Regions from separate parts of the Homo sapiens genome. Here region 1 is linked to region 2. The links come from fine-mapping of genetic effects on gene expression. A gene starts in region 2. The other region holds a variant in brackets. All regions are shown on one strand. Distances are from middle to middle. Region 1 has its middle 4.3 kb from the start of SLC2A7. Region 2 holds the start of SLC2A5 (solute carrier family 2 member 5).

What was found. PIP is the estimated chance that this variant, and not a neighbour inherited with it, causes the effect.
Region 1: its variant is fine-mapped to the expression of SLC2A5 in whole blood (INTERVAL, PIP 0.94).

Annotation. Positions count from the first base shown.
Region 1 is chr1:9,029,225-9,032,135 of GRCh38, forward strand. No RefSeq gene overlaps it. Among named protein-coding and RNA genes, the nearest start is that of SLC2A7, 4.3 kb to the left of the region's middle. The variant TTA/T (reference allele first, on the strand shown) is at 1,313.
Region 2 is chr1:9,067,891-9,070,801 of GRCh38, forward strand. It overlaps SLC2A5 (solute carrier family 2 member 5), which reads right to left and starts at 1,745. Exons shown (of 12, transcript NM_003039.3): 1 at 1,614-1,745. The coding sequence starts at 1,646.

The DNA of each region.
Region 1 (2,911 bases), 39 kb before region 2:
TAACAGCAGCACTCCATTTCCCAATACCAAAATCTCTATATTAGTTTTCTATGGCTTTTGTAACAAATTACCAAAAACGTAGTGGCTTAAAACAACACATATTTATCATCTTAGGGGTCTACGTGTCATAAGTCTGACATGGGTCTCACTGGGCTAAAATAAAGGAATCTGCCATGTTACGACACAGCAGGAAGGTCCTCACCAGATGCAGCTCCTCAATCTTGGACTTCAGCCTCCAGAATCATGAGCCAAACACACTTCTGTTGCTTATAAATTGCCTACTCTGTGGTATTCTGTTATAGCAACACAAAATGAACTAAGACATCTGGTAAGAGCAGGGACCCTAGCCAAATTTTCACAGATGGCTCTGGTGACCCACTTGGAGTTCAAGGGTGCAAGGAGGGAAAAGGCATGCATGGTGTTTATCTTCCTGGCTACACTGTAAATTCCTAAAGACAGAAGATGCCATGTATGTATCACTTGCATGTCCCAGTGCTGTGCAGAATGTAGGATGACAAGAGCAGCCCCTCAAACAGCACTGTTAGGGCCAGGTGTGGTGGCTCATGCTGGTAATCCTAACACTTTGGGAGGCCGAGACTGGTGGATCACTTAAGTTCAGGAGCTCAAGACCAGCCTGTGCAACATGGTGAAACCCTGCCTCTACAAAAAATACAAAAATTAGCTGGGTATGGTGGCATGTGTCTGTAGTCCCAGCTACTAGGGAAGCTGAAGGGGGAGGATCACTTGAGCCTGAGTGGTGGAGTTTGCAGATTGCTGAGATAGTGCCGTTGCACTCTAGCCTGGGTGACGGAGTGAGACCCTGTCTTAAAAAAAAAAAAAAGCAAACACATGAAAAAGGGAGAAAAAAAGCACTCAATTCACTGCAGAGTAGTAGGAGGGGAAAGGAAATGTTCAGATGAGAGTGTCAGGATGCCAACTACCTGCTTTCTCATTCTTCCTGCAGGAACTAAAAAATAATCCTGGAGAAAGCAGATTGAAGGGGGCAAGACTCAGTCTAACTAACATTCCAGATTGGAACTTCAGCTCTCCTTTCTGAGCGCCCTTCTGTAATGGAAATGGCCAGTGCACCATGCACTGCCCTGCCCTTGTTCCTGATGTTTCTGTCCTGGTGGTTAAGCCACTAAGCAATACCAGGACACAGGGCAATGGAGTGAGATTTTCACAAAGAAAAATCTATTCAATTTAAAAGACTGAAATTTATTCTGTGATTACATCCTGTCTAGATAGTAAAATGCCCTTTATTTAAAACATTGTTTCCTCAATTTGGTGATGGGAGTTCATTTTTTAAAAA[TTA/T]TATATATATATATATGCAAATTAGAGACACAGTCTCACTTTGCTGCTCAGGCTGGTCTCAAATTCCTGGGCTCAAGCAATCCTGCTGGGATTACAGACATGAGCCACTGCACCTGGCCAGTTTTTAAAAAATGTTTTTATTTGCAAAATGGAAAGAGGCAGCCCGATGTTAGTCTACCAAATTTTGGTATGTGACATCTGGAAGTGTGAAAAACGCTGGTCAAACCTACCTTCCAACTGCCTAATTTGGCTTATGAACATGTCGCCTGGGGGCTGACAACTCCTCCCCAGATCCACTCTTTCTTACTCTGCTGTCAACCATTTAAAATCCTCTTTACCAAGACTCATTCATTCAAAAAGCACTGAATGAATTCCTACTCTGTGCCAGTCACTGTTCCAGGCATGGTGGACACAGTGGTGAGCAAACGGGTCTGAACCTTCTTCAGCTGAACCCTCTTCAGCTCCATCTCTCACCTGCCAAGTGTCCTGACCTTGATCCCATCACAGGGACTTAGCATTGTTATCTGATCTTTGAAGTGTTGATTTTCTGGCCAGAAACCTCTGTGGCCGGTGGCAGCCTTTGCCTGAGTTCTTGTCCCGCATCCAGGAAGAATGAGGTATGCAGACAAGTGGAGGGTGAACAAGATGAAGAGGAGCTTTATTGAGTGTTAGAACAGCTCAGAGGAGGCCCACAGTAGGTAGCTCCTCTCTGTAGGCAGATTGTCCCATCGAGTGTTCAGCTCTCAGTAGAGAGGAGGCCCTGGAGAGGGTAGCTCCTCTCTGCAGCTGGTCATCCTGTCGTCTTTCCATCCTCTGCCCTGTTCTGGCTGAGTCTGGGGCTTTTATGGACCTCAAAGGGGAGGAAGTACATGCCTATTGGTCCATGGGGGGCCATAGGTGGGCCCAGAAAAGGCATCACAAGTCCCCAGTCCAGTCTGGAGGACTGGCAGCCCAGCCGCCAGCCTTTAGGCCCTCCCTGGCCTGAAGGTGGGGTCTTACAGGGACCTGTCCACTTCTGCTCAGGAACCTGTCTGCCTCCCACAGCTGTCTGTGGCACCCGTGTTGCTTGCAGTAAGGGGCACCTGTAGGCCAGCACCGAGCCACCCTCAGCCCCCCTTAAGCTTCCCCTCTTACACTCATCTGTGCCCAAATTCCAGAGGGGGCCAAGGCAGCAGGGGGCTGGCATGTCAGCACTTCCCAGGGTGTATGCACACCCAGCTGAGCTGTGACAGTGCCCAGGCTCAGCCCCAACCCCTCTCCGAGACTGGAGTGGGTGCCAGGAGTGGAGAGAAGCCAGGCAGTGGGAGGAGACATCCCCAAGTCTGTGGGGACAGAGGGGAGGGGTGGGAAGGCCTTGCCGGGCCCCTGAAGGTGCAGACTGCAGAGACGCCTAGGGCCTGCATCTGGTGGGGGGCGCAGGTGGAGGCTGCAGCTGCACCTGGGGAGCTCCCACCCCCATGAACTCAGAAGGGGCGGGGCTCCTGCTTGTCCCTAGCTCCTGCTGGCTCTGGAGCATGCAGCCCTGGCAGTGCCACAGAGATCAAAGTGGGCGCTGACAGCAGGGAGAAGCCAGGCAGCAGAAGCAGGCACTTGCAAG
Region 2 (2,911 bases):
GTAGTAACATTTACGATGGCCGGGCGCGGTGGCTCACACCTGTAACCCCAGCACTTTGGGAGGCCGAGGCGGGCGGATCACCTGAGGTCAGGAGTTCTAGACCAGCCTGGCCAACATGGTGAAACCCCATCTCTACTAAAAATACAAAAATTAGCCGGGTGTGGTGGTGCATGCCTGTAATCCCAGCTACTTGGGAGGCTGAGGTGGGAGGATCGCTTGAGCCCAGAAGGTGGAGGTTGCAGTGAACCTTGATCGCACCACTGTACTTCAGCCTGGGTGACAGAGCAAGACTCTGTGTCAAAAAAAAAAAAAAAAAAAAGCGAGAGAGAGAGAAAGAAAAGTAGTAACATTTACGGGGAACTCACTCTGTGCCAGGTACTTTACATGCATTATCTCATTTAATTGCTCCAGCACCCTATGAGGCGGTATGGTTATTACTCCCATTTTACAAATGAGAAAACTGAGGCACTGAAGAGTTAAAGAACTTACCCAAGTCCCACAGCTAGAATAGGATGGAGCAGGAATGAATCCTGGGGGCTTCTACTTCCCAGGCCCACTCTTTTTTTTTTTTTTTTTTTGAGATGAAGTTTCGCTCTTGTTGACCAGGCTGGAGTGCAATGGCGTGATCTCAGCTCATTGCAGCCTCTGTTTCCCAGGTTCAAGTGATTCTCCTGCCTCAGCCTCCTGAGTAGCTGGGATTACAGGCACCTGCCACCACGCCTGGCTAATTTTTGTATTTTTAGTAGAGATGGGGTTTCACCATGTTGGCCAGGCTGGTCTCGAACTGCTGACCTCAGGTGATCCACCCACCTCAGCCTCCCAAGACCCACTCTTAATCTATGTGCTACAGAGCATGTTTCCAGTCTGCCTATGGTGAGGGTCTCACATCCATGCCTGAACAAATGCTGTTTTGCAAAAATGTGCACTATCCTTCCTCCACTCCAAATATAAGCAGATGCTATTGTGATGAATAAATGCAAATTCTTATAAAGTGTTAATAAGTCAGTGTTACTTTTCTGACATTATGCATTTTCCTCAATCAAGGGAATCTAGAAAGTAAACTGCAATTACGTTGCAGGAGTCCATGAAAATCTTTCCTCTCTAAAACAAGGGAGCCTCAGGATCTAAAAGGCAGGAAACCTACGTGACAGATCTGAACTAAATTCAAATCAAGCAACGCCTTTTCTGAGTTTATCTTGCTTTCATGCAGCTCAGCTATGTTACTTGCTGAAAAAATTAACTGCCCTGAAGCCAAAAGCAAAACGAAAGCAGAGCGAAACATCTCACCAACCATAGAAGGATTTTGCAGCTAACATGTTTGGTTCAAGTTGGGACAAATGAATCCTTTGGGTCTCTTCCATTCAGTTACAGATCCTGCTGTTAAAGGCTGTTCCAGTAGAATGATTTCCACAGAGCACTTGTCTCTAAACCTCTCTCCTCCCTATAAAAGACCACCTGCTGGACAAGACTTTCCCCCTCTCCCCACCATAATCCCTCCCAACACAGAGTTCCCTCTGCAACACCAGGAGCCCCCCAGCGACTCTCCAGGAAGGCTGCACAGGCCCTGGCAGCCAAGCCTGCTCTTGGCCCCTTTCCCTGAGCAACACACTCACCCCTTCCTTCATGCTCTGATCCTGTTGCTCCATGCTTGCTCTGGAAGGGCAGAGTGCCGCTCACCTCCTTTTAGCCAAAGTAACGCGTGCACTGAATGGAGAGAGAAGACATTCTGGGTGCACTTTGGCCATGCCAAATAACAGCCAATAGCATTTTTATAGCCAGATTAAGTCAGAATAACCCTTTCAGGAACCTGGTCTTCCTTTCACTTCTGCTTTTAAATGAAACGTCTGGGGTTTGGCTAAGTAAGTGGGTGCCCCCTGGGGACTGCAGGCCCAGCATTGTCCTGATGGAACAGTCTACGGTATTTCCCCATTGCTAAAGTCTCTACCAGTCAGGCTCATGGTGAATGACTGGAAGGGTTATTTCTGTCAGGAACGCATGGCAAACAACAGCTGTCCTCCACCCTACATGACACCAGGTAATCTGAGGGCAACAGATTGGGCCACTAGAGACCTCAAAGATGCTCTCCCTGCCAGGAAAACTACAGTCAAGTGTCTCTTGGTGGAGAGTCAGTTTTGCCCAAGTCACCGTGTAATACTGTTTGGGGAAAGTTTCTCATTTTCTGTTTTTTTTTTTTTTTTTTTTTTTTTTTGAGACGGAGTTTCGCTCTTGTCCCAGGCTGGAGTGCAGTGGCATGATCTCAGCTCACTACAACCTCCGCCTCCCGAGTTCAAGCGATTCTCCTGCTTCCACCTCCTGAGTAGCTGGGATTACAGGCGTGCACTACCACGCTCGGCTAATTTTTATATTTTTAGTAGACACGGGGTTTTGCCATGTTGGCCAGGCTGGTCTCGAACTCCTGACCTCAAGTGATCCACCCTCCTTGGCCTCCCAAAGTGCTGGGATTACAGGCGTGAGCCATCGTGTCCGGCCTCTTATTTTCCATTTTAAGGAGCTCAGAATGACCTAGGGATGTTACTTTCTGTGTATTCATCACTACTGGGAAGGTGGTAAATACCTCGAACCCCTTTCCAGGCAGGGCAGGGAAAATGAGTCACACCTGCTGGTCCGGGTCCGGCCATCTCAAGGCCAGGCCACTGTCAGCCCCCCATGTTTGGCACTCATTCAGCTGCCACAGGGCACACCAGCGCAAGTGGCCAAAATCCAAAGTCTCACAAGTCCCACAGGTTTTCATCTTTACAGAACATACTCCCAGTTCTATTTGCTGTGGCGTAAATCCAGTTACTTTAGTGATTGATTCTGAATCTCATGCATCTTTAAACAAGCAGAGACTGGGAGCCTGTGTTAGGCACTGTTCCTTGCATTAGCAGCAAATCCCCAGGGTTGCTCAGGG